3 separate regions of the Homo sapiens genome follow, and regions 2 and 3 are each reported to be linked to region 1. Evidence: microRNA targets listed by miRTarBase, many of them from high-throughput screens and not tested one by one. Region 1 holds a microRNA gene; each other region holds the end of a gene's coding sequence. Distances are from middle to middle.

Evidence for each region. The annotated mature microRNA hsa-miR-214-3p reads ACAGCAGGCACAGACAGGCAGU and lies in region 1 at 5,913-5,934, shown strand. An mRNA with a match to its seed (bases 2 to 7 or 8) in the 3' UTR can be bound and repressed. Matches are read on the target gene's strand: a 7mer-m8 pairs with bases 2 to 8, a 7mer-A1 pairs with bases 2 to 7 and ends in A, and an 8mer does both.
Region 2: the mRNA of HOMER2 is a reported target of hsa-miR-214-3p. The part of its 3' UTR that is shown has no 7-base or 8-base seed match.
Region 3: miRTarBase lists STX6 as a target of hsa-miR-214-3p. Seed matches in the 3' UTR shown: 7mer-A1 at 6,944-6,950.

The regions. Positions count from the first base shown.
Region 1 is chr1:172,134,357-172,144,749 of GRCh38, reverse strand. MIR214 (microRNA 214) reads left to right here and starts at 5,843; the gene lies at 5,843-5,952. The region is part of intron 14 of DNM3 (dynamin 3); the gene reads right to left. DNM3OS (DNM3 opposite strand/antisense RNA) reads left to right here. Exons shown (of 4, transcript NR_103486.1): 1 at 1-96; 2 at 313-385; 3 at 2,537-2,614; 4 at 4,154-7,871. MIR3120 (microRNA 3120) reads right to left here and starts at 5,942; the gene lies at 5,862-5,942. It also overlaps MIR199A2.
Region 2 is chr15:82,841,187-82,851,579 of GRCh38, forward strand. It overlaps HOMER2 (homer scaffold protein 2), which reads right to left. Exons shown (of 9, transcript NM_004839.4): 8 at 9,965-10,045; 9 at 7,797-8,717. The coding sequence ends at 8,529. Among named protein-coding and RNA genes, the nearest start is that of WHAMM, 37 kb to the left of the region's middle. RefSeq lists an enhancer at 8,615-9,390.
Region 3 is chr1:180,968,435-180,978,827 of GRCh38, forward strand. STX6 (syntaxin 6) reads right to left here. Exons shown (of 8, transcript NM_005819.6): 8 at 4,291-8,212. The coding sequence ends at 8,136. It also overlaps the pseudogene MR1P1. Among named protein-coding and RNA genes, the nearest start is that of KIAA1614-AS1, 19 kb to the left of the region's middle.

The sequences.
Region 1 (10,393 bases):
GTCTCAGTCAGCGCAGCAGAATTCAGGGGGGAAAGCTGAATGCAACCCCTGGTGCAGGAAGGGAGGCTTTTCCTGAGGACCGGGAGAGGATTTTAAGTACATAGAAGGAAGCTTCTGGAGATCCTGCTCCGTCGCCCCAGTGTTCAGACTACCTGTTCAGGACAATGCCGTTGTACAGTAGTCTGCACATTGGTTAGACTGGGCAAGGGAGAGCAACGCCATGGACCGCTGGGGACAAAATGGGCTGTTTCCAAGGAGAAGACATTTGTTTGCTCCTTTTTTGAATCTCATATCCAGTGTTTTTCTTCACAGGTTTTGCACACTAGGGACCAAGAAGCCCTCGGGGACACTGCTGAGAAAAGACTGCCGAAGGGAAGACCAGCGGGTAAGGCCTTCTTGACTGCTCACCTGGTCTGTGACCAAGGGAACCTAGGTGGGGAGCCCATGATTTGTGTTAACATGCAAGGGAAACAGAGGTACATGTGTGATGGGTAGAGATGTATTTAATTTTAAAAGAGCAAAAGTGTGTGGTATATAGCGATTTACTGTTTTTTTTTTTTTTATTTCTGAAGATTGATAATTCAAGTGTTTTCTTAAAGGTTTTCCCACTTCAAAATGAAATATGAAAAAACTCATTCCAGACACTTAAGAATAGTTTAATGAGGCTACTTTTGAATTGTTTAATAATAATTCAAAGATTTAAAAACTTATATGGATGAAGGCTGTATGTATAACTTTTAACATCCCAGGACTGAAGTCATTTTTCCCCAAAGTAAAGAATACTTGCTGGTTTTTAAATGCTATATGGATAGTGCTTTTCTGAAGATTTCCTTCTGTAATATAAACAACAGGAATAATAGTACCTAACAATAAAAGAAGAACCTGCCAAGTCTTGCCTACCAGACAATGCAGATGGGATTTGCCCAGAGAAGAGCACCGACCCACAACTTATTGAGTCAGCAACTGAGTAAATCAGGGAATAAAAACCTCTATCTTTAGATACCCCTGTAAATATCTGTTTTACATTTTTTTTAAATCAAAGAGTGGTTAATAATTGCTGCTCAGCTGAGCCCTCTTGCCTATAGCTTACAATGCTTCCACTTCTCTGAGCATTTAAAATAAGGCACTTTGTCTAGAAACCCACTGATAAAAAAGGAATTTGTAAACGAAGGCAGAAGTTTTCTTTGGTCAGTTTCCAGCTGTCCTGGAGGTGAAAGAGGGTGGGAGAGGGGGAGGAAGGTGGGAGGGAAGAAAACCCTCAAGCTGAATGAAATCCTAATAGAGAAAATAATAGAGCAAGTCTGGATTGCAATGTGATCTGTGCTGAACTTTAGAGGTCGGCCCCTTAAAGAAAGTTCTGGAAAAATGTTATTGCCTCATCCCTAATTTTCTTAACCCCCATTAATTTCTATTCCGAAACAATTCTATATAATGAAAACATCTCTTCTACAGGGTTTGTGAAAAATAAACATAATCTCTTTTGTCCTCCTTTAAAGTTACAGTGGTTCCTGAACAAATTCTTTTCTAAGTTATACATTTTGCAACAATTCAAAAATTGACTCAAGTTCTCTTTAGCAAAATATTTTATTATAAAAGATTCCCTAAGTTTTCTTTTGTCAAAACAACTTACTTTAAAAATTACCCTTCTGATCACCCCAAAATGTGTATAAAGAAAACATTAAGTATTCTCATATATTCATGATTATTAGTTAAAATATAAACAGCAAGGAGAAATTTAGCTACTTTCACTTAGATGATATAGTAAAGTTATCCTTTCATTTTCTATTGTGACTTGGAGAGTTCCATATTAATTATTTTTAGTAGAACAAATGAGATGTTAAAAATCTATATAGTTTCTTTTACATAAGAAAACTAAAAAAAGTAACTTAGAGGAGCTCATTTTTTCAAGAAATATATTTTTTCTAATTGATACAATTACTGAAGAGGAAAAATAGCTAACAAGGTACTTTGGTAATGTTTTTCTCAAATTTTCTGGGTTTTTTTTTTTTTTTTACTCTAGAAATGATTACATTTCAAAATTTGCTTTCATTTAATGTATATTTAATTTCAATTTCTTTCTTCATGTTAAACGGTCTTTTTGTTTCAAAGAAATGAATCCCTATGGGTCCCTCACCTATTTTCTCCCTCAGGATGACTTTTAGTCTGGAGATAGAAGGGACATAAGGGTGCCTCTGGCATAAGTACAGGAGTAGAAATATAAGAATTACTTTGTAAAAGGATAACCAAGGAGTTCCTGCACATGCTTGATGTGGCTCTAGCGACTTATTTTCGAGGCAAAGTTTTAACAAATGAAAACGAATAGTACTTATTTTTCAATTATATGGGCTAAATTAAAGATCAAAGGTAAAAGCTCATTTTATAAAGCTCTGCTGAATGAAGGCAGGATTGTAGTTTATGCGCTGGTACACACGCCCACATTTATATACATTATAGCCATATCTATATCCAGGTAAATTAGAAAAATGTTTAATTTTATTTTCATATTACTTTATAAGGAGATATACAAATATTTTAGGGATCATGGAATCTATTCCAGAGGAAACTAACCAACAGTGAGCATCTTCAACTAAAACTACCCCTGGATGTAATAAGTGTAAGTATTAAAATTAAACATTATATGTGGTCATGAAGAGAAAATTGTTTCAGGGTCTGTCCAAACTACACTTCATAGAAATTTCATAATTATTTTTCATTTTAGCATGTGAATGATTGATAAATTGGACTAGGTACTGGGTTAAAAGGACTTTTCCACCATCTAAGAGAAAGGAAGTTCAGAGCCTTAGCTTCAACACCACAATTTCTTAACTGGAAAAGGATCAATCTAAAACGGTGGACTTAAATTTTCAAACTCATTTTTCTTTTAGGCCACAGATCTCAAAATCAAAGAAAGACTGTTTACTATAGGACAAAGTTTCACACTGATCACTTTCCTGTAGTTAGTCAATAGGCTTAATATCCTTCCTGCTTGGCATTCGGGCTTTCGGCCCAGATAATATGTTTATGTTTGTAAAAGACCAAAATATACTATCTACCCCCACCTCTCGCCTACAGACCACCCATGTATTTCACTCTGTGGGAAACAGTTTAGGCATAAAAATCCTAACGAAAGAATTCTCCCCACTTTTTTGGTTGAAGTCTTAAGCTGTTATAAGATATAAAAAGTACAACTTGGTAATGTGAAAAAATTCACTCATCCACAAGCATCCATGCTCGGTAAAGAGACGCCAAAGCTTTCACTTACTCTGTAAGGGATCTGCTCTTTATAAACAATGCACTTTACTCTGCTCTAAGGAGAATAGCCCACCCATCACAATAACGTCAAAATAATAACTAAGAGACCATCACTCAGAAATCCTGGCTTAAAATAACTAGAAGGTCAGGCTTTAACCTGAGACAGGAAATTCCTGAGTTAAGATAGAAACTTTCTTACTTCAAATCCCTTCTTACTTTCATGTTCTGTAAATTAAGTAGAAATAAATATTTACTCATTTTCAAAGGTCTCTTACAAATAATTTTTATCAGTTTTAATAGTTAGAGATAACGAAGTAAATTAGGAAAAATAATTAAATCTTCATTTTGAATTTTTTGACTTAGCGTGACAGCCAGTTTCCTGGAGTTGCTTTGGTTTAATTTCACTACAGAAGACTTAGAAGACAATTCTTTTCTTACATTTTTTTCCTTAAGAAATAAAAGACAAAAAGAAAACAAGGTGTAATAACCACACTAAAAATTACATGGTATGATAATAATACAAATAGCTCTTTTATGTTTTAGCTAGTATTTTAAGTAATAATAAACTAATATTCAACCTATAATTTGGGAGATTAAAAAAAGGTCAATATGGTTTTCAGTCTTTCATCTTTTTAACAAGTTTAGGGGCAGGTTCAACATAACAATGAAGTGTGCATATGTCACATAGTTACTGTAAGTGTGTTTTAAAAATCTATCAGAAACATAAATTGTCCAAAAGCCTTATGAATAGAACAATTGTTTTCAGCAAGATTTTTTTTTTCCCCTGAAAAACTGTTGTGGTTTTTCTGGCTCAAAAAATTTTTATATCTTGCCTTAATAAAACTGTTTTATATTAAAGCATAACATACAAACTCACAAATATTTCTTTTTATTTTTTCAGGTTGCATGCATCATTCCTTTAATTGAGCAGAGTTAACTGGATCAAATTATTTATGGGAGAGAGAGGAAAAGTTATAAAGAATTATAGTAATTTTTAATTTCCACCAATATACTCTTTGTAAGTGAATCACTCTATAATTACTTTCTGTTGCACTGAATGCAGCAACAATAACACAATAGTATTTTAAGGCACTGGTTTTTGGCATACTCTAACCTTGTAATTATTTAAATAACAGCCAAGTTTACTCATGTTTTTGATTCTGTCAAGAAAAAAAAAAAGTTCCTTTACTCGAAAGTGATGGCCGAAACAGAATCGGAAATTTGTTTTCTTGAAATTACATAAATACACAGAAAATGGCACTTATTAGCTTTTGTTAAAACATTACCTTACCTAATCACTGCATAAAAGTCCAGATTTGTAGAAAATTGTAATTTTCTCAGTATCTAAAACTATTTTGCTTTCCATTAAGTTTCTATTTGCTATTTTCTCAGAATTTTACAATTAAAGATAAATCACAAACTGTTTGTTTTTCTTAAAGTTCTTTGAGAAAATGTCTAATTATACAATCCTTGGACAATACTGTGTTTTTTTGGTGCTGTGTTTTTTAAGAAGTCCTACTTACTGGAATTTTGACTATTTGGATATTTTTGTTTTTAAAAGGGGAGGGGAATTTGCTTAATACTTCTAAAGATGTGAATTGATAATTGATATTAAAATAGAATTACTCTCAACTCACCAGAATTAAATTTTATATCTGCATATTTAACACTATTAGCTCATATAAATTATAAGAAAAATTTTCAAAGGATCTGGTTTTAATTTTTTGGATATGAAATGAATTTGCCTTTTCTGCCTTTTCTTAAGTACTATTTTGTAACTATATTGCACTAACTATATCCAAAACACATTCTGAGCATCACTGTGAGTAACAGCCTTCCAGTTTGTACCCTTTTGATTCACAGCATGGCCCTATAGTTAATTAAGAGGTGGATAACTTAAGCTCACAACTGCCTTTAATTTGATTTCACATCCACAGTTATAAACTTTGCATTTAAAAGGAAAATGAGACATTTAAATAGGTTCCTGTTGTTTCACATATAATTGGTAAAAACATATTCCCTTGTAGGATCCTATTATCAGAGCATCAAATACCAAAGTCAGCAACTTGGGTTGCCAAATAAATTAGGCTCATTAATTATTTTGAAAAGGGCTGCTGTTTCCATGTAAATGATAATTTTCTTTTTCATGGACAAGGTTATGGTACTTATCTACTAAAAGAAACATGCATAAACATAGTTTTTATCTTTAACTTCAGTATTAAAATATGCAGTTTTTTGCAAAGAGGAAAAACATCTGGTTCAATTACGCTGAACTCTGACTACATGTGGGCCAGTAATAATATGAATTGGACTTAAGAATAAACCTTGTGTTTAATCTCTTTTTTTCCTTAAAATTTTAATGTGAGTTTTCTGTTACGCAAATTATCCATGTTAGCACATTTGGAACAAATGTATAAATGTACTTTCTGAATAAAGTCAAAAGTCTAACTTGTTTTTAGTTCCATAATGTTTTAATGTTTAATTATATTGTGTATTTTTCTCCCTTTCCCCTTACTCTCCAAAATCACCAAATCTGGAAAACAGGCTGATTGTATCTGTCTATGAGCAAAGGAAACCTGAAGGAACCAAGGGCCTGGCTGGACAGAGTTGTCATGTGTCTGCCTGTCTACACTTGCTGTGCAGAACATCCGCTCACCTGTACAGCAGGCACAGACAGGCAGTCACATGACAACCCAGCCTGAATGACAACCAGCCATTGAAAGAAAGCAGCCCTCACACCATAGCATCTACACCAAGAGCTACAACCAAAATGAGGGGCTCGGGGGCCTGGGGTTTTAATCTGTTGGTTTAATACTTAACTCATGTATTATTTTATTTTGATTCAAGTATTAAAACCCACCAAAAGTAAAGTGAGTGGTGCCTATGAAATATAATAAAACCCATTTCTGAAAATGTTCCTGTGCATTCTATAGTTCTCTTTTCCTAATTGTTGTCAGCAAATCACTACCCTTGACCTTTATTGTACACAGCTTTGCAGCACCCTATATTGATATAAAAACTCAATATAACAAAACAATATAACTTCAGTCTGATGCTTAACAAAGAATAAATTATTCTAAGAATTCTTGTCCATAAACTAAGTATGGTTTTCTATGTCATGATTTTTTTTTTTTTTTTTTTTTTTTGGAAGGGGATAGGGTGGAAAGACAGAGAAAAGAAAAGGGAGAAAAAGAGTATTCCAAAGGATCAAGTGCTTTGAGTTAACTCTGCCAGTCTGGGTTAACTCTGCCAGTCTGGGTCTGGGCAAAACACAGTGAAAAGACTACTATTTCCAACTAGTGTTCAACTATATTAAAATAATAGTTTCTCCTCTTTTGACATATGGAAAGTTGAAATTTTTGATACTTCCACGCGTCATGGTATACATAAATTTATGACTGCGTCATTCTTTAATTAAGAAGGTGCTTATGCTACAGTTCTAGGAGTAGAATTTACAAGGCCAACACATTCACTTGCAACCTATGCTTCCATCACTATAAACTTTCAAGATCTTGAGATGTTCAGGCAATTCATTTATCTTCAGAAGCATAAGGAAAGTGGTTAATGCACTTGAAATGTATATTTTGACACATCTTTTGAGAAAATATCCAAACTTCAGTTTATGCACTGTTAACTGGAGTGAAATGATAAGGGATGGCTTTTGTCTATGAATACTTTAAATACTTAAGGGTAAAAGGTGGGAAGATGGATAAAATTAGAAATGTGTCAACTTTTATTTAGTTCATTAACATGTTTTAGCTTCAGTATTTGAAATTAATTTTCATCTTTCTTAGATTCTGGTCAAGCTTAAAAAATGTAACACAAGGCTACTCAAAACTTTTTTCACATTTAACAATTAAACACTTTATGTATGTATTCTTAACTAAAGCAAACTATTTTTCATTCAGCTATTTTATTTTTAAAATGAAAGTCTCAGTCTTAAAGCTAAGATCCCAGTGAGTTTCAAATTTTCTGACAATGATATTTTAACCAAACCTGACATTATAGTTTCTTTAATTAAAAAACTGAATGATGGGGCAAAACTACAAAGCACAAATATGATTAAAGTTAAATTTCTCTCATTTAAACAATCTTGTCTTATGGCAATATGTCATCTGCTAAAATTCATCTCTGCTTCTGCAAGATACATTGCACGATGCAGATTTTTGCCTTAAATAAAAGTCCCATTACTAGCAAATAAAGTCCTAAACAATACTTACAAAATGTAGAATATAAACAGGAAGACAATATAAAAATTACTCACAGAATATCGACATCGTTCTACCCAATCTTAAATGCCTTGTACCACCTGTTGCAAATGCTGCCTATGAGAGTTCACGTATGGAATTATTCTACTGGACCCTGCAAGGCTCAGGAGAGTGCTTGACAGCTCCCAGAATGAGACAATGACCTAGCCAGAACATTAAGGAGACTACACCCGTCCTTCAGACTCCAAAGGGAAAGCTAGGACGGCAGCAGAGTCATCCTAAGGTGAGGCACTCCAGGATAACATTTTCAATATTTTTCCTTAAAACATAAAGTTAACACCTTTTTTGTTAAACATTTTTTACTCAATTTTCAAAAAAAATGCTTGAAAGAATGTTTTGTATGTATTTTAAAGTCATTAAATGAGGCACATTTAAAAATTTTTCTCTTCTGGGAAAGGGTAATATAAAGGATAATATTGCTCTTCCAGGATAAACTTTTGAGTGGGACAAATAATGCATATAGGGGAGTGGGTTTGAATCTAAACTCATTTTTAATAAATTTGGAATAGGATTGGCCATTATGGTTTATTGAATAATACTCTTTTTTTCAAAATTATAAATCTTTAGATAATACCAGAACATGGAAATATTTGTATGAATAATCCTATATTAAAAAAGAATAACATCAGATAGTTTATGTATGTAAAAAAATATACAACTGTGATCATGCAGAATTTTAAGTAATATAAGTGGATTAGAGTTCAATATTTACTGGGACTTTTGTGAAAATATCTAAGTTTTGGCTAACTAAATAACTTAACGAAGGAGTGTGAACAGTGTTCACAGGGTCGACGCTGACCTTTTCCACCACAGGGAGTGTGCAGATCTGGTAGGAAATATGCACAATCTTAAAAGTATAAGTGAAACTAGAAAGAGAGCTGAATATTTCTATAACTTCTTGATCTCACAACTTTGATCATCCAGGGATATAACTGTCATTTTGTTTCCTATTTCTGAAGTTACATTTGTCATTTGTTATTGTTACAAAATGAAAACAATGCTAAGTAAATATCCCTATAAGGGAATTATATAATCTCCTTATCAAGTTATCCAAACACTTCAACCCACAAAAATGAGGCCTGTAATTTCTTAAGAGTCCAAAGAATGTCCTTATTTCAATGCAGATGTTGGGTTTTCCTCAATAGTATAAGGTTAGCAGATTTCCACTGGAAACGCCTATGTTGCATTATTCTGCTTGCCTAGGAGTAGCTCATTATGATTTAAATCTTTACACACTGGGCTATAGAAATAGAATAAATATTGACTAAGTGCTTTTATTATACATAAATTAACAGTCCTCTTTCTTCAGAGATTTGAATTATCTCTTAAAATTTACATATTTATGTATTTTTAAAACAAATTTCTCATTGGTTTTAAGAAAAATAAGGCTCTTTTCTCCTTGAATCAGGGTCTCCCATTCTCCTAAAATTCACATTTTAGACATAAGTTAAAGAAAAGCCATCATTTTTTTCAAGTCTGATTTTAAAGTATTAATGTAAAATTATCTAGATCAAAAATCCATTTCAAAAAACTTTTGAAATGACAGTTTCTGTTTTATTCTCACATCTTGCTTTTTACTAAATCCCTTTCCAAAAATGTACAACATATATGGGCAATGTATGAAAACAACATTGGGAAATTAATTTTCTGTTTAAATGATTTTCAATCCAGGAAGTCACATATATATAGTCAGAGGATAAAAAACAAACAAACAAACAAAAAACAAAAACAAAAACAAAAAAACACTAACCTTCAATGATGAAAATTAACAAAATTTAAGACAATTTAAGACAATCTACCTTTAGTGGTAATTTTATTCTGTAATTCAATAATTTAATTTTGACACTTGATATGCCAGGACGTGATTAATTATTATGCTGCATTTATTCATTCATTTGCTCAATGACACCTTCATTCAATCAATATTTAGTTAGTGTCTCCTATCAGTGCTATGTCCCCTGGTGGTAGGACAGGGAACAAACAATGTCTCCTGGTCTCAAGAGGCTTACAGTTTGCTGCAACTCTTAGCATGTGTGATGAGTTGTTCATGTCAATTTTCACCTTCCAAAAACATCTCTTAAATCCGTTCATTTTTATCAAATTCCAACAACTCATCCCAGCCCAAGCTACCATTATCTATGCAGACCACAATAGATGTAGAAAGCAATAGCTTTCTAGTAACTCCCCAGTCCAGTTTCGCCCTCTTCCAATCCATTCTCCACAAGGCAACCAAAGGAATCAGTAAAGAATTCAAATCTTATCATGTGACTCTCCAGCTTAAAAAACTTCTCATCATTCTTAATATCAAAATCCTCATCTTTAGAGTGCCTTTCTCTTTTTGCTCCAGTCACACTGGACTTAATTACCCTCCTTAAATTCATCAGGCTCAATCCTGCCTCAGAACATTAACACAAACCTTCTCTGACCATCCAATGTAAAGTACCCCCTACCTGTGTCCTCTATCCCAGACACTCTATGTCAACTCATCACTGGCTTTATTTTCTTCCTAGCCTGTAATCAGCATCTGCTAGGTTTTCCTATTTATTTGTATGTTTGCTTTATTGGGAAAGAGCCTTCATAAGAATAGGTACCATGAATTCCTTGCTAATCATTTTATCCTTAGTGATTAGGACAGTGCCTGGTACATAACAAGTGTTCAGAAAGTAATTGTTGGGAAATGTTCAGATGATTAAGAGCACAGCACTGACACTTAGCACCTGGCTAAGTTACTCACTCTCTTTTGAGCCTCAATTCTTTATCTCTAAAATGGAGAATGTAAATAATGTGCTCAGTGAACTATAAATACTCAATAACTATTAGCCATTATGGTGATGATCCTCCTCATTAAGATCATCATTGAGTTTGAGTTGTGG
Region 2 (10,393 bases), not on the chromosome of region 1:
CCAACCAATCATAAATAACCACTGTTAACATTGAAAGGAGATGTATATTAAAAGAATAGTATACTATGACTACATCAGATTCTTGTAGAAATGCAGAGATGTCTTAACATTAGCAAATCTATTAAAACGATTCATCTAAAGTCATAATAGAGAAAAGCCAGTTGATCATCTTGACAGATGTGGAAAAAAGCCATTTAATAAAACCCCAACATCCATTACTAATAATATTTTCATCAAACTAGAAATAGAGGGCATAACCTGAATGTATAATTCAAATATTAAGATTATTTTACACTAAGAGTCAAATTTATAGTTTTGGAGAAACACTCTTCTAAGTAAAAAAAATTTGATATATATATATCAAATAATGTACAATATCAGCACAATTATGTAAATGTTTTTTAACATTGTTCTAAAAGTACCAGTCAATGTGATGAGTTGAGAAAGTGAAATAAGATTACAAATATGGGAATAAAATTATCAACCTACCCAGAACTATTACCCAACTGAAAAAGGCGAAAGAAATTAACAACAGCAAAACCTTTAGAATAATTCAGTAACTGGCTAGTTACAAAATCAATAACCAATCGCCAAGTTAAACTATTATACAACTACACACTACTCTCTTATGCAGAGGTAAGAATGAGGTAGATTGATGTGTACTGACATAGGAAGATCTATTGCAAAGAGAAAAATGCTAACAGCAGAAGGGTTGTCTCATATGGTCAAAGTGCTAAAACATACTTTAGGAAAAAACTGATGAATATGCTGTTGACTTTTTCTGGGGGAAAGGGATTTTAATTATGGGGGACTTTAATTTTCTACATTATGTTTTTAAATAATGTTTACACTTACATAAGTCTAATGTTTTAAAGTCATAAAAGCGATAGATTTAATTTTCATTTTTTAAAGTAGTAGGATCTCATTTACAATAGTAACCACACTAAAAAAATCACCTATACTAGAAAAGATAGGCTGAGAAACATAAAACATAAATTTACTGAAAGGTTAAATATTATAAAGATGTTAGTCCTCTTGTGTAAAATATGTAAATTTTACTCAATCCAATTTCTAATTTTTCTAAACATAAAATTATCTCAAACTTCTTTTGGAAGGTTTTTTTTTTGTTTTGTTTTTTGTTTTTTTGAGACAGAGTCTCGCTCCGTTGCCCAGGCTGGTGCTATCTCAGCTCACTGCAACCTCTGCCTCCTGGGTTCACTGCCTCAGCCTCCCAAGTAGCTGAGATTACAGGTTCCTATCACCACAGCCAGCTAATTTTTTTTTTTTTTTTTTTTTTTTGTATTTTTAGTAGAGATGGGGTTTCGCCATGTTATCCAGGCTGGTCTCGAACTCCTGATCTCAGGTGATCCATCCACCTTGGCCTCCCAAAGTGCTGGGATTACAGGCGTGAGCCACCATGCCCGGCCTGCACAATATACTAGGCAAGTTTTGAAAAAGTTTAATGGGGAAGTTTAGTCCAAAGCTATGGCGATCCAAACAATGTGGTACCAGTGCTAGAATGTGCAGGAAGATCACAACCCATAATAAAGAGTTCACAGCACACTCAAGGCCAGGGTGCTTATCCTGGCACCCAACAGAAGGGCTACTAGGTGTATGGCAAAAATGGGATTTCATATAGAATAAAGGACAGACTTCCCAATAAACAGTGTTGGGGTAATTTAGAAAATACATTCCAGATAGATCAGAGGTTTTTAAAATTTTTTTTAGAGACAGGGTCTTGCTCTGTTCCCCAGGCTGGAGTGCACCGGTGCCATCAAAGCTCACTGTAACCTCAAATGCCTGGACTCAAGTGATCCTTCCACCTTGGCGACCCAAAGTGTTGGGATTACAGGCAAGAGCCAACACGCCCAGCCAGATCACAGATTTAACTGTTTAGAAAGAAATAATAAAAGTACAAGAATAAGATAGTGGTGAATATTTATACAACCTTGCCATCAGAATTGGGAAGACCTCGCCGGGCTTGGTGGCTCACACCTGTAATTCCAGCACTTTGGGAGGCCAAGGCGTGTGGATTGCCTGAGTTCAGGAGTTCGAGACCAGCCTAGGCAACATGGCGAAACCCATCTCTACTAAAAACAAAAAGTTACCTGGGCGTGGTGGCATACACTTGTAGTCCCAGCTACTCAGGAGGGAGGTTGACACATGAGAATCGCTTGAACCCGGGAGGCGCAGGTTGCAGTGAGCTGAGATCACGCCACTGCACTCCAGCCTGGGGGCCAGGGTGGACCCCGTCTCAAAAAAAAAAAAAAAAAAAAAAAAAAAAAAGAATTGGAAAGACCTGCATAAGCATGACGGCATAGGTAGCAACCATTAAAAAAAAAAAAAAAAGTAACAGATAAACTTGACTAAAAGGTGTTTTTTTAAATGTCTAAACGTTTTTAAAAAGCCATACGTGCAACTTAAAATTTTGTTTTACAATGTTTATGAAATAAACCTCTTAGAAATCAATGATACTGCTGAACACCTTAAAGGGTTACATTTTAACCAAAAAAATATTTTTTTTAGCTCTCTGTCCCCAGGGTAACTCCAGTGTTAAAGAGGAAGCAGTACACACTCACACACTGTGGGTGGGAGTATAATTGGGTCTGTCTTTCTGGAAGGCAATTTGAGGCAATACATATTACAAGTCCTAAAAATGTGCATTCTTTTTTATTGTTGCAACAGGATATGTTATGCTGCAGTTAACCAATTAACCCTGAAACCCCAGTGTTTAACACCTAAGGTTTATTTTTTTTATTCATGCTACCCGTCCATGCAGGGTGGCAGGTGAGGGTAACATGAAGGGAGAAGGGGGCTGCTCCACGTAGTCACTCAGGGATCCAGGCTTGACAGAGGCTCTGTCCCTGGGACATCAGCATTTGCTGAGGGAAGGGAAGGCAGACACTGCGGAACTGCTCATGGGCATTTCAGTGTCTGTCTGGAGCTTCATGTGTCACCTGTGCTCACATTTCATTGGCCAGAATTAGTCATAGGACCCTGAATGAGTACAAGGGGGATGGAGGGTGAAGTCCTGTATGCCTCAGAAGGAAAGGAGCCGCAGATAGGGAGGCGCGTACTTTTGAGCCAGTGATAACTTCAGAAAATTACCCTAAGTCAATATTCTGAAAAGTTCGCAAGGATGTTAGAAGAACTTCATTATGTCCTTGACTACAACAGTAAAAAAATTGGAAACAACCTAAGTATCCAAGGTACAACCTACATAGAGGTTAAAAATAATGTAATTACATATTTACTGATATAGAAATCTATTCACAATATAGCATTAAAAGGGATAAAAGTTATAAAACAGTATGTATAATATGATTATATTTCATGGAAAAAGTAATAAAACACACACAGATGCATAGAAAAAAGTCTGAAAAGATAAAAACTGAAATGTTAACAGTGGTTATAATCAGATAGTGTAATAACAGGTGATTGGTTTTTTTCCCACTCATCTGGAATTTCTTTAAAAAAAGTATTATATTATTTATGTACCAAGAAAGCATTTAAAAAGGGAAACAAAAAACAGTACTCTTGGGAGAGTTCACTTATCCACTCCACTCTTCTCATTAAACTCTTATATTTGATGCAAGGAATGTCTTCTTGCCTGTCACATCATAAGACGCTGCTCTCACAACTGACGTAAAGTCGGGACTTCCTATTAAAAGCAGTACAAGAGGGTAAAAACAATAGCACAGCCTCACAGCTGTGAATCATCAGTCCTGCCCATCACTCGCCAAAACATGCACCACTTGGGACTCTGCCGTGGTTTACGGGCTCCTGCCAGGTGCCCTGGGGGTCTCTAGGGCCCAGGAGAACACTTTGCCGCAAGGCTCTGCACCGTCAAAGAGAGTAGGGCACTGAACAATTCCACTTCAAACAAAAGATCCACAAACTTCTGGTAAATGGATTCCAGAACATAGATCACCACCACCAGAAATAGAAAATAAAGTCTCCTCTTAGGTATACATATTTTTAATTAAAAACGCTTCCTTACTGTTTCTCCCACTTCCCCTTTTGCTGTTTCTTCACACACACACACACACACACACACACACACACACACACACACGCGTGCGCACATACACAGTCGTAAGTTCACTAGAACATTTCATCCAGCTCAAAATTCTTACCAAAGCCACCTTCCTGCCTGGGTAGTGTTTAAAGCCAACTAGAAAACCCATATTCTTGAGATCGGTACATGGAAGAGGCATGTAAGTAACATTTTCTAGACTAGACAGGAGTCCCTCTCCATGCCAAAACCCCCATCATCTCCAGAATATATACTGTTTCTTTGGGGAAGCCATGTACTCAGAAATTAGGGTCCTTTTAAAGCATGCATATCTTTAAAAATATACATGGACATTGATCTTGCAAGCTTCTAGTTTGCAAGTGCTTCAAAATCTAGTGATGTCTCAAGGCAATGAAAGAATTTAGCTTCTAGAAGGATGAATGGAACAAACAATCCACTTCTGGATATTAGCAAAGACCAGTGGCTGCCTCTTTTGAGTGCCTGTGCTAAGTCACATCACGTCTGCCTTCTTCCCAAAGGTGCACCTGGCCACATGTGAGGTCCCACCATAACGTCCCCAGCGCGTCCTGTGGTTGGCTCTCATCCAAAATTGTCCCTGGTTTCTATAGAGAAGGAGACTTTTCTAAAGAAAAAGAGCCCTGTTAAAATAGGCAGAGCATGATGTTTCTGGGAGGCATATTCACTGTATTACGCTCCACCCTTTACTTGATGTTTTGCATCAAATGTAGTCCACAGCAGGCAGGCGCCTGCCCACCACCATCAAGGCTGTGCTCATGGAGCCTGCAGGCTGGAGACCAACTGCCCTCTGTGCACAGTCTTCCTGGGTGTTGATCAGGTCCCGTTCAAGCTGCTCCCACCACTGAGCAAGGCTGCTCCCTCCCCAGAAAGCCAGAAAGGAGTGCATCTCCAGGAAGGGGCGGGCAGTGGACAGGCCACCCCCAGCCAGAACTCTGTTTCCATTCCTGCGATCTCAGGGCCTCCCACTTGTTTTGAACATACTGCTCTGCCTCCACTAAAGCCATCAATAAAGAACTCAGGGTGTGTTTGTTTTCCATAGAACTGGCCTCACAGGCAGAGACATCATTTTAACCAACTTTCTTGGAAAGATTCCTGCAAAACCAGAATCATTCCAAAGTGGAACTTATCATTTATAACAAACATTCCTAAATGTCATTCGGATTCACATTTTTGTAAACTGTCCTTTGCTGTGGACACATATTGAAATAATATAATTGTAATATGCTCTTATCAGGATATAAGAATTATTTTCTCTTGGCACCCACGGGTCACCAAAGGGACTAGAGTGGCATGTCTCAAAAGATACTGCATCAAGGTCCAGGAGACCTGGATGCAGAGTCCACGCTGCTGGTCACCGCTGGGTGACCCTGGGCGTGTCACTTTCTCTGTCTCTACTTCCCATCTGCAAAATGCAGGTGACAGTCTCTGCCCTGTTCTCTCACCCAATTAAAGTCTAATGTGATGGCAGGCAGGAGAGATGAAACTGAGGGGCCACACAAGTTCGAGGTCTTGTGTGGATACTGGTTCTCTTTCCCTCCAAGGCCTGACCATACTGTCCCAACCTGTTGCTCTGGTGGTTTTACATTCCCCGGGCGGCACTAGGAAGGCTTCCTCGCCACTCCCAACTTTAAAATGCATCCAGCTGGGTCTTGACTGGAATGAAAGGTTATTTTTAAAGGTCCTCTTGGTTAAAGGGTTCCAAGTTTTAGTTGATCTTTTTTAGACACCAGGTTTCATGGAGGCAGAAGGAAAGCTTATCAAGGTATAGCAGCCAGTCTTGGAAACACCAAAATCAGGAGACCTCAATTGCAAACTGAAAATGCAGTCCTGGCCCTGCAGCTTCCAGGCAGCACAAGCGGCTGCGATGCTCACGAGTGAATGGCTTACATTCTGCCTGAGTCTGGCGTAAGGTTATGACAACAGTACTGAGACTGGGCTGGATGTCAGAATAAACGAGGGCACGTCACACCAGCTCAAGGGAACACCGTCCAGGTTGCTCCAGGGCCACTATTTTAAAAGAAAGTAAATGAAAAGACACTGAGATCTTCAGAGAAAAGCAGAAGGAATGGAAAGTTCAGTGCTTTTGTAAAAGCTGTTGTGCTTTCACGGCCAAGCCCAACTTACCTTTCCCTTTAAGGGAGTCCTTACTACTCTTAGCTCCAGGGTTGCAACAGCTGTAGAGCTGGACACACAGCAGGAGGAATCCAAGTTCCTCACCTGCTGCCCACAGGATGCTCACCACACTCTTCAGTGCTTGGTGAACTGGGATCATGGGTCTCAACTGCACAGCAGCCCACTGTGGAAATGGCTCTTCCAACATTTTCTACACCTCCACTTCTGGAGTTTTCTAAAGTCACTGCTATCAGAATGTACAAGTGGCTTCAGTAACTATTCTATGCATGTCACCTGAGCATTCTCTTGTCAGTCAAGCGGGCTCTTTCTAGATTCATAAGTCACCTGATAAAGGCAGAGGTCATCTGAAGACCCCAGCGGAAGGTGTTTGGAACCCAGTGTCCACTGCTCCCAGGCAGCCACACACCCAGCCTGCTGCTGGGCAGACCAGGCTGGCTTGAGAATCCCCTTATCCCGCTGCTGGGCCACGGGGCTGACTCATAGCCAGCTCGGCTCTCTGGTCTCCTGGTGCAGCCAGGAGGGAGCTGCTACCAACTGTCCTGAGAGCCGTCTGGAGCTCTGGGGAAAGGGAAGGGCCAGCAGCAGACTACCCCGAATCACAAAGATGGCTGGCCACGCTTTCCACTTCCTGTCTGCCAAAAGCCCTATGTACTCAACCAAAGCCCCCACTCACCTTGCGGGAGCTCCTCTAAAAGTGCCTTGGTGCTCCAGATGCCCAGCCTTCCCTTCCATCCACATCCCAAACAAGACTCCCCAGCTCAGAGAGGCGTCTCCGTGAGGGGAAGGGAAGGAGAGCAGGAGGACTCGTGTTCACCTTGGGGCCCAGGGCACCTGGGTTCGGACCCCATCTCCCTCCTTCCTCGGGTTGTTTGCTCATTAATCCAAATTCAGCAGGGAGAAAGTCTAACCACGTCCATGGGAGAAGGTTTCTAGAAGGAGTAGTCCTCTTAGGTGGTTCTCAAAGGGGTGAGGGGGCACCAAAGCCTCCCCCCTGCTCAAGGCATTTAGAGATGTGTGGGGCCAGGGATTCAAGCCATTATTGCCACACACGGGCAATCTCCCAGGGCAGGATGCCAACAGCACCCACAGGCCCGCTGGCCCCACTGAGCAGCTCTGTGAGAGAGGAGAGGTTTATGGCTGCAGTCCCTTCCCTAGGAGAAACTGAAAAAGGCAGGACGCAGAGCTGGGTGGAACACCTCTGTCATGAGGGCCAAGGCTTGTCAGCTGAGCTGCTCTCTCCCCCCGAAATGCCTGTGATTTCTTCCCAGCTGTCCAGACCCATAAGACAATCCTACCCTAGGTACCAAGCCCTGGGCAGCCCCTATACCTGGAATCCCTGGGTCACCATTCCTAGGGGAGAAGGTGATTCGAGGGTCTGGAGAGCCCCAGGGGCAGAGCATCACGGATGGGCTCCAGGGGCCTGAGACCAGCTCCTGCTGCTTCCCCTTCTCCCTCCCTGCCCCAGGGCCACCCGAGCCCCAGCTTGGGTTTGACCAGACAGTGGTATTCATGTCTGTTAACTACCCAGCACAGCAAAGATGGTGCATCATTCGACAGGGTCCCAGCTCTGCTGTGGGGTTTGATTAAAACACTAAATTCTGTGTACACATTTAATTGAACAAATATTTATTAAGCACCTACTTTGTGCCAGACATTGTGCTAGGCACCCTCACTGTGTGCTGTTCCCACAGCACAATCATCTGCTCAGAAATTAAAACCAAGAAAAGGAACACTGTTGCAACCGTACAAACTGGGGGGGCGGGGGGCAGGGGGCAGTAGCGTGGATGCAGGCAACTCCGGGCCAGAAAATGCACCCACCAGAAGCTTGTTTTCCATCTCTCAGAAAGTTTCCACTAAACAGTTGTTTTAAAGCCTCTCGATGTTGACAGAGAGGAATGTTGTTCTCTCTGTGCCCCCCGGGGCTGGTGTCTGGTGGACATTCAAATACTCTGAATGCTATTTGATAAAAGGAGCCTGATGGCTTGGTGTAAAGAATATCAATATTTGGATTACAAAATGCGTGTTTTTTCAGTTCATATGGTTGCAACAGCCCTTATGAAAGATATAAACATCCCTGCCCTGACTGCATAAATGTTGAAGGTAGACCTAGTTCTGGATTCCTGAGTCAGAATCTTCCAGTTGTCCACAACCTCACAAGGCCAGAGAAGCGAGAGGAGATTTCTATTCTGAAAAGGAGTGAGTGGACGGCACAACTGGTTTGGAAACACGACAAACTGCGCCTGCATTTACAGAAGCAATGCACACAGAAGAACGTCCTAGAGCTATCTGGTCTCGCACACACGCTTGGGACTCACGGGCGGGGCCTGGGCCTCGGCCAGCCCTAGTTATCGGTGCCCAGCTTGGAGAGCCCTCGGCGGAAGTCATGCAGGTCGTCAATCTTCCCGTCCAGCACCTCCAGGAAGCTCTTCAACTCCACCTTCAGGTGGCGCTGTCGGTATTTGCTCTCCTCAATGTCTGTCTTTAAGGAACGCACTTTGTCTTCCAGGTTTTGATTGTCTCTCTCTGCCGCCTGGCCAAGCAAAAGGGAGAAGGGTCTAGAAAACTGAGTGACGAGAGTCATCCTTCAAAACCTGCTACAGCTGAACCAACCATTCTCCATCCAATCTGAGGGCCTGGGCCAGGGCTTAAGCTGCCTAGAGACATGCTACCCCAGCACACAAGCCTGTGACCAAGACATCAGAAGGGAAGCAGCAGGCACTTCAGTGACCTCCTCCTTTCCTGCCTGCTCTCCCACAGAGGGACCAACACCCAGCCTGAAAACCCAAGACCCAACAAAGCAGGCAGAACGCAGAGTCCTGCCTGAGGGAGACCTCACACAGGGCCCAGCAGGGAAAGTCTGAAATCCCTGTCTGAGTGGCTAGCAGAGACCACATTTCAGTTCCATCCTGAGAGACAGAACAGATGGGAGAGTGGCTCGTTCCCCTGGTCCCACAGAGAGGCGTGGCCTCCTCAGCCCCAGGCCAGCCTCTGGCCCTCAGAGAGGAAGGACTGGCCATGCCAATGACTCAGGGACAGCCAGTCTGTGCACCCTCTGATGCTGTTACCATGGAGATGTTCTGTGGCGCTGGGCCCCACAAGCCTACAGAGGCACATCTAGGTAAATCACAAGCAGGTTCCCAAAGACAGGACAGCTGTGAGTCCTTAAATGAGCCATAAGCCTTTAACTCTTCATATCAAATAAGAGCTTTATGTTGAGGGAATAAACAGAGACCTTTCTGAACATGTGCACAGGAAGCAGTTACCAATTCCAGGGTCATGTAACTACATGAAGCGCCGTGTGCATATCAGAGGACCTGCAGGGAAGAGGCGCTCCGAGGTGGAGGAAGCCCTGAAAATCCTCATTTTAGTGATCAGAAATCTGAGGATAGGGAGGAAGGCCTGCCCAAGGTCAGTGCCCAAGGCCACTGGCAGGGGAGTGGCTGAAGTGGCCCCACACCCTGACCCTGGGCTCTCAGGCCGCCCCCCCGCTCCTCACCCCCACCAGGGATCTGCAAGGAAACAGTCGTCTACACTGTGGTGATGCACAGGGGCCTTCATAGAACTTGCAAAACCAAAAGACAAACGTTGCTGAGTCTGCCCCGGGGGCAGGGGTGGATGCGGTGCCATCTGGCGTGCAGTCACTGCCAGCTTTTTGTGAATAGAAAATCTCTCCTTCAGCATTCTCAGTGTGAAAGTGATAGGAAGCAGGAAAATGAGTACCATGACATTTGTGCCTTCTTGTCTGAGCCAGGATGGCTGTGCCCCCAACCCACGTACCTCTAGCTTCTCAGAGACATATTCGCACTCTGACATGAGCTGAGGTATGATTTCACTTTGTTTTCGGAGATCTTTCAGCTCCTACATGAAAAAAATTTGAGATAGAACATGAAAGCAAGTCAGATAAAATATATTCTTGAAAATCACCAATGTGTGCACGCTCGTGGAAGCAGCTTTGGGACCCTGTCCTGTTTGCATAGACAGTGATAGTGACCATGCGAATACTTCATCTCAGGGAATTTCAAGGGTGAAGTGTGTCACACGCCTTGTCACGTGAAGTCTGTACACACCACCACAAGGCAGATGTTTTTCCGATTTCTGTTTTATAAGTGGAGAAAGTGAGGCCTAGGGAGTTTGGTAACATGAGCACGGCCTCCAACATGTGTGCACTTAACTGTCTGCCCCCTAGAAAATAAATGACTGTAGGCC
Region 3 (10,393 bases), 8.8 Mb from region 1:
ACCCATAATCCTAGCACTTTGGGAGGCTGAGGTGGGTGGATCACTTGAGGTCAGGAGTTTGAGAACAGCCTGGCCAACATGGTAAAACCTCGTCTCTACTAAAAATACAAAAATTAGCCGGGCTTGGTGGCATGCACCTGTAGTCCCAGCTACTAGGGAGAAGGCTGAAGCACAAGTATCACTTGAGCCCGGGAGGCAGAGGTTGCAGTGAGCCGAGATCGCACCATTGCACTCCAGCCTGGGCGACAGAGTGAGACTCAACCTCAAAAACAAAAAAACAAACAAAAAAAAATTGGGGGTCCCTTGGACCTAAGATTTCTGAAAACACTCAGACTATGGGGACCCCTGCTGAAGGAGAAGCCCCCAACTGTGGCTTCAGGGGAATGCACCAAGGCTCTCACTGAGGCCGCCTTCTCCAACAAGCTCCCCTCCTGCTTCCCCATGGCTGGCATGGCTGAGGAAAAAGGACACTGAGCACAGCCTGTGCATGAGCGGCTTGCCATGCCGCAGGATAAAACCCATAATGCCACTCAGCGTGCCTTGGTTGTAAATCTAGTTTGATTACAACACTAATCTCTGGCCATTTGTTCTGTTTCTGATTTGTGAACCAACCGAAGACATGAGCAGGGCCTCAGCTAACCCACAAATAGCACATGTGTGCAAACTGGAAAAATGAACCCTTCTTCTGGGAGGACGCCAGCCCAGGCCAGGTCACCCGGCTTGGCCAGCAGAACACAGAGTGGATTTTGGTCCCGTTTGTTCCCCAGTGGGGTATCTATCCTTGTGCAGGGCACAAGCTTACATGGTGGCTCTGGTCATTTCATTAGAAAATAGACAGAAATGGGCTGCACACCAGAATGAATGATTTGGAAGGGAGGGGTGATGGTATAAAAGAATAGGCCAATTCATTCAAAATGGTAGAAGCAGAATGCCAAATTCCATCCACTCTTACCAATGCCCTGAGCTGGGAAGCACAGGAAGCTGCTGCTTTTCCTCTCCCCTTTTTCCCCACTCCGTGTTGGCTGCACCAGCAGAGGCTTCTGTATTTGCCCTGGGCGGGAGTTGGGTATGAAGGTCTGGGCCAGAAGGTTCTGAGTTGCTGCGCTGCTGGGTGGCAGCTGGAAGGCCAGGCTGGCTGAAGCCCTGGCGAGGTGACACTGGGTCTGAGGCAGGTGCAGTGGCAGCAGCCAGACCTCTGAGGACACAAATGGGCTAGAGAGTGGGAAGAATGGAGTGGGGGTAAGGGGGGACAGCCTATGAGAGGAGGCTGCGGGATGAAGTGGGAAGCCACAAAAAATGGAAAAGGAAGTGAAACCAAGGGAGAAATAAGAGTGCCACCCCCGAGGCCGTCCTGGCCTTTCTTCCTTTCTGAGGCATCAGCGCAGATTCTAAGGTTACCTGAACTGACTGAGAGCTCTATTGTTTTCTGAGCAACACGACAGTGGTATAGAGAATTCCTGGAACACACTGGGAAGACACACGCTCTACAAGGTGACAATTCTGGGGAAATCTGAAGGGCTGGAATAATAAAAAGTCAAACATTTGGCATCCCATCAGCTGCTGAAACAACCCTCTCACGTACTTTAAAATACCCAAGACACACACTCTGCATATTACTCACGAAACAGCTACGAATGCACAGTCTGTGCATTACCAGTTCATGTCACACTGTGCCTCAGGAAGCCGCTGAGTGGCCTGGTCATGCATCTTATCAATCTTCTGGGAGAGGTTCTGCCTGACTGAATTGGCTTCCATAGTATTTGCACTTCACAGCTGAAATCCTTAAGAAAGGAGGTCAGCTTCTGGCTCCGTAACAAGTTGTTCTTGGCCACCCAACGGTTGCCCTTCCTAACTGGAGCCATGGTGCTTGGGTGGAGACAACAGGTGTAAAATGGGTCAAGTGAAACTGTGCTTGCTGCTCCGGCTGACAGCGAGCAGCTCTATGGCTACCCTAACATGCGACGGCCACCACCAAATTCAAACTCAGCTGCCACAGGCTGCCAAATGAGAAGTCGCCATCTTAGTCCCTCAGTGTCCAATACAAGGACGCTCCACAGTCAGGCAGCCAGTCCACAGGTAGGACTACAGTGCCCAGAAGTCATGGCGATTTTGTTTTCAGATTGACAGATAACACTATGTTTTCATCGTGCACGTTTTGAAGTATACAGAAGTGCCCCCTGCCCCACCGCCTTTTTGCAGGGATACATTCCAAGACCCACAGTGGATGCTTGAAACCACAGATTGTACTGACTAGATAAACTGTTTCTTCCCTTATATACATAGGAACTCCCTTGCTGAAATCTTTGTATAGGCACAGTGCTTTCCAGTGCAACCCATTTCTGAAACCTCAGAAAGTGAAACCGCAGATAAGGTGGGACTCCTGTGCAAGTGGGTGACATGACAGTGGACGAAGAAAATAAACATAAAAGTTGTCCTTTATCTAAGAAGGGAACGCAGTTCAGACAAGGAAGAGGAAGAGCAAAAGGTCAAGACACAATAACAGTTACCCAAGCTGTAGGGCAACAAGGGTTATCTACGGTGAAACCAACTGCAAGCCTGACACTCAAGTTTGACACGAGGATCTTCAAGACCCCCTTGGCCTGTGCACTCCAGCAGCCAGGGAGCAGATTTATGGTGTTAGTGAAGGACAGCCCTCTCTGACAGCAAAAAGATCTTCCTCACTTCCAGTGGGTGGTGGAACGAGCATACTACCAAGGGCCAGTGATTTGTGGAGGATTGATTTTGCACAACTGCATCTAGAGGCCTTGGGAAACCTCCAGCCCTCTAGCCATCTTGCCCAAAATGTGCGGACCCACAAACGAGAAGCAGCCAGACTTTTCTGATGGGCCTCCAATGGGCACTTCTGGGGTCCTGAAAAGACTTCTTCCCATCAGGTGTATTGTTTCTTTGATGTGAAGTTCCAGAGCAGGGAGTAGTGTTCCTCTGGGGAATTTGGAAAAAGGGAGACACACTGTTCTCACATCAGTTTTAAAGCTTTGCTGTTCACGCCTCATAACTGAGGTGACCCCAGAAATTGCTTGCTGAGTCCATGCAATGGAAACTTCTCATCATTTTCCCAGCTGTATTCTCCTCCCTGCTCTTTGACCGACTGCTCTCTGCCTCCAGTAACTCAGCATCCTCTTTGGCCTGCCCCACCTACAACTGTTGTGGCATGGAAGGACCCCAGGTTCTCAGAAAAACTGCCACCTCACCCTCCTCAGAGAACCCTTAGGATCTGGCATTTCCACTCTGTGTACGCTGGAGGCCGGGAGGCTCAGGCTCAGAAAGGTGAGAGCTCTGGGCCATGAGAGTGCACATCTAGGAAGCGGGGGTAACTGTACGAATTAAGGCCGGATGGCAGAGCAGGACAGGTCACAGGGGTGCCCACAGCAGCAGAACAGGCCATCTCACCACCCACACCCATCCCCCTCCTTCGGTGGGGGTTACTAAATGGGGCTTTGGGATCTCTCACCTTCTTTGCACACTAGTTCTTTTGAAGCTGGCCTGTGGAATGGTGTTTTATGTTTATCCTTGTTTACTGTAGACCAAAAATTGGTTTGGAGGCAGCTTCCAAGTCTTGTCCCTCTCTCTCACTGGTTAGTGGGAATTTGGATAAGGGAACTGTAGGGCTTAGGTCAGTCTAGGGTCTTTTTTTTTTTTTGAGACGGAGTCTGGCTCTGTCGCCCAGGCTGGAGTGCAGTGGCGCGATCTTGGCTCACTGCAAGCTCTGCCTCCCAGGTTCACGCCATTCTCCTGCCTCAGCCTCCCGAGTAGCTGGGACTACAGGCACCCGCCACCACGCCCAGCTAATTTTTTGTATTTTTAGTAGAGATGGGGTTCACCGTGTTAGCCAGGATGGTCTCGATCTCCTGACCTCGTGATCTGCCCGCCTCGGCCTCCCAAAGTGCTGGGATTACAGGTGTGAGACACCGCGCCTGGCCAGTCTAGGGTCTTATGTGACCAGCTGCAGAGTAAGTACCTCTAAGCTATCCATGGTCCCTGCCAGGTCTATAGACTCTACAGAGAGCACCGCTCTCATGGGTTCATGTGTACCTGTCTGGTGGCCTTGTTCCGTGTGTTTAGCCTCTGCCCAAGGCATGGATGAGTTACATGCAGTTAGTGGTGAGATCCTCATGCTGAAGCCAGCCTCTGTGCCCCAAGAAGTCATGGGCTATGATCCAAGAATCTGGGAAGTAGAGGTCTTACCCTCAGGCTTGGGTGGCTCTTTGTTGCATTTTGTGTTATTCTGCTATATGATCATTCTAGTAATTCAGTCCTTTTCAAGTTGAATTCTTTTCAGGTTGTTTTATTTTCCTTTTCCGGAGACTTTTGTACATACTGTTGTCCTGAGTAACAGTATCTCTAAGCTGAGTTACTCTGATCGGAGCTACTGAAAGGTACCTGCTTTCAGCAAATTCTGGTTTGGTTTTATTTTTTAATCAAAAAAAAAAAAAGGAGAGAAAGAAAAGAAAGACCACCCCCTATTAGAAGCAAAGGCCCTGGGAGGAGTAAGGCCTGTCACTGGGGCAGGGGCACTGTCCTCAGGGGCGGACTTTGCTCAGGGATGGCGCACAGTGACTGCGGGGGCTTAAGTCCGGTAACCCTTTGGTTTTATTTCTTTTTATTCTTGATGGGCAAAAAGCCTCCTTTAAAAAACATTATTCTTAAGAAACCTGGGAGAGAAAAAAATGCCAGTGAGAGGAAGACAAAGAAAAATTAGAGGCAGTACATTCCATATTTCAGAACTTTAGCTTTCCAGACAGTCCAATTTTGTTTTGTTTACAAATTCATCTTGCAGTACAAGGTGAAGCCAAATGGTACAAAGTCCACAGAATTGAAAAGCCATTCATATTTATCATTCAATTTTTTGATCTTCAAATGTTATGAATTCTCCAAAAAGGTAACAGGGAACAGATATCCCTTTGGTCTCACTTTATAGACAGGGAAATTACCAAAAGAAAAATCTTGGCTCTACCATCTCTACTTACAGAAGGTAAAACACTTAACAGAGACAGATTTCTGTTGGAGTTAGACTAGATTTCTTTTCACAGCCCTTAATCTCACGAGGTGAGAAGGAGTGGAAGTTGCCAAGTTGTTGGCTACCAGACCCATCAGTCTGTTTAACTCTGGCTAAAAGCAGAGAATAATGGGCAAGTTACCAAGTTTCCCCCTTCAGCTCTGGCGTGCATTCTGAAATTGTGGAAGATCCTCATGTAACACACACGCTGCAACCTGCATTTGCCACACAGTCCAGGGCATATAGAGCATTGTGATTCTTCACAGTCCGCAGAGACAAGACCAAAAATGAGGACTAAAAACTAAAGGTAGCTGAGTTTTTCAGATGGATTTTCACTCTGGCAAACTCAGTAGTTCACTCCCTCCCACCCCTCAAATCATTTAAGTAAAATGTTCTTCCAATAAACATAAATTGAGCTCTTCCTCTGTTATCCATCACATTCTGCCAGTTCTTTAAAACTGGAATATGGTACTAGGTACAGAAGGCTAAAGGGGTAGGAAAGCCCCAAATACTATAAAGATGCACTTATAAGCAGTGTGGGGTTATCACCACTGTCTACTTACTCTCCCATTCTAGGACACAGGGTGAAGAGACCACCTGGGTTCCCTCTAAAGCCCTGAACATTAGGACCACTGAGGAGGAAATATTTGTCCTTAAAAATAAATGTAGGTTCCCTGGATTGTTCTCTTTGGCTGCCACATTTGGAGCCTGAGTGGAGGCCCTTCAAATTAACACTGGTTCTGTAGGGACTGCCCAGTCAGGGTGCAATGGGATCAGACACAGGATCAAATCAGCCAGGGGCAGAAGGGCATGGTGGCCCTACGGGTAGAATGCACTGTATTGTTAGTTAACTTTCTAAATTGTTCTCTATTTAGCTTCAGCCTGAGTCAGGTCTACAATGGCCACTATTTAGAAAATAATTTAAATCAGTGAGGTAAGCACGCCGATTTGAAATATATCCAAACATCATTAAGCCTCTGGGTCATAAAACTTGGTCCCTGAACTAACAGGAGTATCTTACTCATTAATGACTAGGTTTGTTCCAAACGGCCCCTGCTGACACACATGATCCTTTTGTGTGGCACAATAAATCTGGTAATAGCAGAACAATAGCATGGCTTTTAAATAGGGTAATTTTATAATTCCTTAAGATGCTGGTTTGCTTCTTATAATGTGTTGTGTGGATTACAGTACTTAGACAAGGTTCACATTTACTTTAAAAGACTTCTATATTTTAATGCAAATCTAAGGATCATCCCCTTTCTTAGTTTATAGAAGATTCAAACTTTGTAAAACATAAATAACCTAGTACTCTAAACATCTGAAGCCCTTTGTAATACTCACTGTTTTTTCCTAATTTGAAAATAACTTATTTATATATCAAACATTAGAGCGGAGTGTAAACATGGATGTCAATCACCCTTTTAGTTTCATAAATTTGCTTTTAGCTTTCATCAACAGGCATATTTTCTTAACCTACCATGATCTCAAATGAGATAAAATATCCTTCTTCAAAAATTGTTAAGAATATTTATTAAAAAGTGCAATTCAAAAGTTAGCTGGGCAAGCACATCATTGCAAATCACAAAAAAGGGTGAAAAAACCAAAACCCCCAAATAAAACCACATGAAATACAAACAAAACAAAACAAAAAGGTTTAAAAAAAAAGTGTGCTGAGGAATGCACCCAAAAAGACAAGGAAATGAGAAGTCAAAGCTAGAACTCTATCCAGATGTTGCTGTTCTTTCCAAGTGCAAAAGAAGGTGGTGAGGAGAGACCAGCAGCCTCCACCACCGAGTTCTGGCTCTGGGTCCAAATACTACTTTAATATCAGATTATTCATCAGGGAAGTTATAAAAATATCCTATATACATGTGCACATTTGAGGCATTTTAAAAAGTCATCAGAAGGTTAAAGTTTAGTGTCTCAGCAGTTTCAGCTACTTAAACTCAATTAAAGCATCTATCATTTAAATTTGGATTGGCTCAGTTATTTGACTGCAGATGATAAAATCAAGCTGTCATCTTAGGGAAAAAAAAGAACCAAGTTTACCTACACATCCTTGCCATTACCCACAGAGTAAGAGAAGTCTGGCCCAGAGCTAACCTTTTATGTCATTACGTTTCTTAATAAATGTAATAAATGTACTAACCACTCCCAACCCCAACCCCCAGTGTAGAGTGCCCTAAGAGTAAAAGAACTGTAATGAGGACAATCTGGTATCCAAATTCATTCAAGTGTGTTACTGAGCTGTTTAGCAACAACATATGTAGCAATCACCCTCAAAACGCAAGCTGCACCTCTGGGGAGGAAGCCCTGGTACAGCAACATCAAGTCGGCAAGGATCAGGAGCTGACCTGTGGCGACATCATTAACCCTTCCCTAAGCTATGCCAATGCAGAACCCTCTTGCTCTTTTTAATTGCTCCTGTCAGTTAAAGCCACAAGTTGTTAGCACCCCCAAACCCCAGGGTGTTTCATTATTTTCCATTAGTTATTCTTACCACAAAAAAAAATGACCTGGAAAAGCAATTTTATCTTAGCATTTATCCCTGAAAAATGAAACACTGCATTTTCTGTCACAAACTGTTTCTGAGCCTTCTGTCCTCAATAATCATCAGCTCTCAGGGGATAAGAAATGCTACAGCAATGGGAAACGAAACATACCCAGAAGCTCGTATTCCTGACAGGTTTCTTTAGATGGGACAGCGGTGCACTGTCTGAGCACGGGGAAGGGTCTGAGCAGAAGAAAAGAGCTGCCAAAGATGCATGGAATGAGCAACAGCAAAACACCAGTGGAGTCTGTAAGTCCCTCCTCAGCAAACGAGGTCCCGGAAGGCAAGGCAGCAGCTAGTTCTCCTCCGAACTGGACAGGCGGCATGGGGCTTCTGTTGTCCAGCTGCAGCCAGGAGTGCAGACATCTATTTCCTCTTCCCACTGGCCCTTCCAGCGCTGGGATGGAGGAGCCATGTCAATTGTGGGGTCACACGGAGAAAAGTCAGTGCAGCAGTATGTTTCCAGGATAGGAATGTGAGTAGACGGCAATGTCACACGTGCTCAGCTTCTCCTCCTCCCCTCGGTTCATATGCAGGAGGAACTCGCACCCAGAGGCCCCGCCGTCACAGCACTAAGAAGAGGATGAGCACAACCAACAGGACTGCAAAGAGGATGGCTATGGCACACCATTGGCGCCGATCTGGAAGGCAGGACATGGGGATTAGCTCTCACAGGGACTCCACATTCCCCAAGATACAGTTATATGGAATTTATGGCACCCTTTGAAGCAGAAAAGGGGCAGAACGTGCAAATGACGGGGCCATGATCTTACACCTGCCTAGGTGCCTGATGCTCTAATGCTGCTCTGTTCTTGGCCTGCACTTCGCATGCAGTCACAACTTTGCCAGTCCCCTGAAAATGTCTCGTAATAATTACATGCTTTGTGTCTCAAGTCTTTAATTAAAATCTGCGGATCTTAGCTTTCTGCTGGTAGTTAGCATATCCTCAAAAAAGGTGTTGGCAATGGTGTTACAGATCAAAGCCTGCCTGCTTTAATCTCCCATAAAAGTCAAGTCATTTAATTAAACAATAATCACATTCTTTTCTCAATGAGCACAACGGGAGGAGGGAAAGGAGATGAAAGCTACTGCTGGTCACTTCAGGAAATATACAGCTGAAAAAGCAAGCTCCAGTGAGACAGCATGATTAATTTCACACCACACCTAGTCAAGTAAGATTACTTAACTAGTAACTGTGTTAAAGTACCTTGTACAGCTCCTCTGTAAATGAAAGTGGAATTTTTTTTCTGAAACTTTCTGCCCTACCAACAATTTGGAACAGCAGGCACAGGAAACAACTTGACTAGAGTCCATCCAAATGGCTGAGAGCAGGGAGGCCCTGTGAGACAGAAGGGCCCAGACAGGCCCTGGGGGAGCCCTGCTGCAGCTCACAATCCTGTGGTCCCAACTCTACAACAGCTGCCCCGCAGGGCTGTTGTGAGAATTAAACAACACAACCCTGTCATACACACACTGTGCAATACCCAAACCTAGGGCACAGAGGATGCTGTCAACATCAGGATGCTTCCTTAATTTGGAGACATGTAGAAAAAATGAGCAGTCCTTCCACTGATGAGTTTTGGCATCTTCCACAAAGGGCCCGACTGATAACAGAATTCACTAGCGTATGAAAATGCAGTACAACCACTAGGAATAAGAGTTCCATTTAAATAGAAATATAAAGACATATTGATTCACTAAAGTTTCTTTGAAAGCCCACTGATTTTAGCACACTATAGTTATTGAGAATCACGTTGCAAAAAGATCTCAATCTATGAAAATAAACTGCTAAACTCTCCACAAGGCAAAACATGTACTTAAAATTATTTTAAATATTATGGATATCAAAGTCTTAGAACTGGACAAGAGAACTGCCACCAAATTATAAGTAAAGCAAGTACCTTCTAAGTGGTGATCACCTTGGTCTACCTCAGACATACTAGAAACTCATTTAGTTAACTCTGAGCAGGACAAAGACCCCAGGTCCATCACTCGTTGTTCTCAGGTAGGACTGTTCCAAAGGTCTAGGGAAGGCAGAGATGGCCTACTGCAGGTCACACTTTGACCTGTTTAACTATTACTTCAATGGTCAAGAAAACTTTTATAACTGGCATTCTCTCATCTGATTAAAAATGTTAAATTTTTAATTTCCAGCCAAGTATGTAAGAAGCTTAGAAGTCATCACTCTGTCGTAACAAGTAAAAAGCTGAACAAACTGAAAAAGCAAAACTCTTCTTAGATCCATCAGAGAAGTGAGGTCACATGGTAAACTGCTGCCCCTAAAACTGCAGAAACCTACAGATGCATACAGAGAATCACAGCTTATCAGAGCAGAAACCCACGAAGCAACAAACTCCATAGGAACCAGTGTTCTGGTAGGAAAACCTTAGCTTTAATTGATGAGTCGCTGAAGGCTCAGTGTGGACAAGTCTGAGATGAAAAACAAACAAACAAAAACACTCCAGGTGGACCCAGGCGAAGGGGACCCCCACACTTCTGTGGGTTTTACCTCCAGGAGCTTGACCAGGTTCTCAGCGAATATTGGGAAAAATCCCCTCATGCTTCCAGCAGGCGGAGGGGAAAAAGAATCACTACGAAATACTCCAGAGCACTCTGTTCTAAACAAAGTCTGCCCTCAAAAGAAACTAACCAGAGTCTGACTAACCTGGGGGAAGGAAAATACCCAACTCCAGTCTTCTCTAGCCATCCAGTTCCACCTAACAGTAGAAAAACTGGGAAGCACTAGTGAAGTTCACGGGCCAGGGGCACAGGCTCACCAGAGGCTAAGACCTAATCACAGGACTAGAAAATGCCACCCCCCG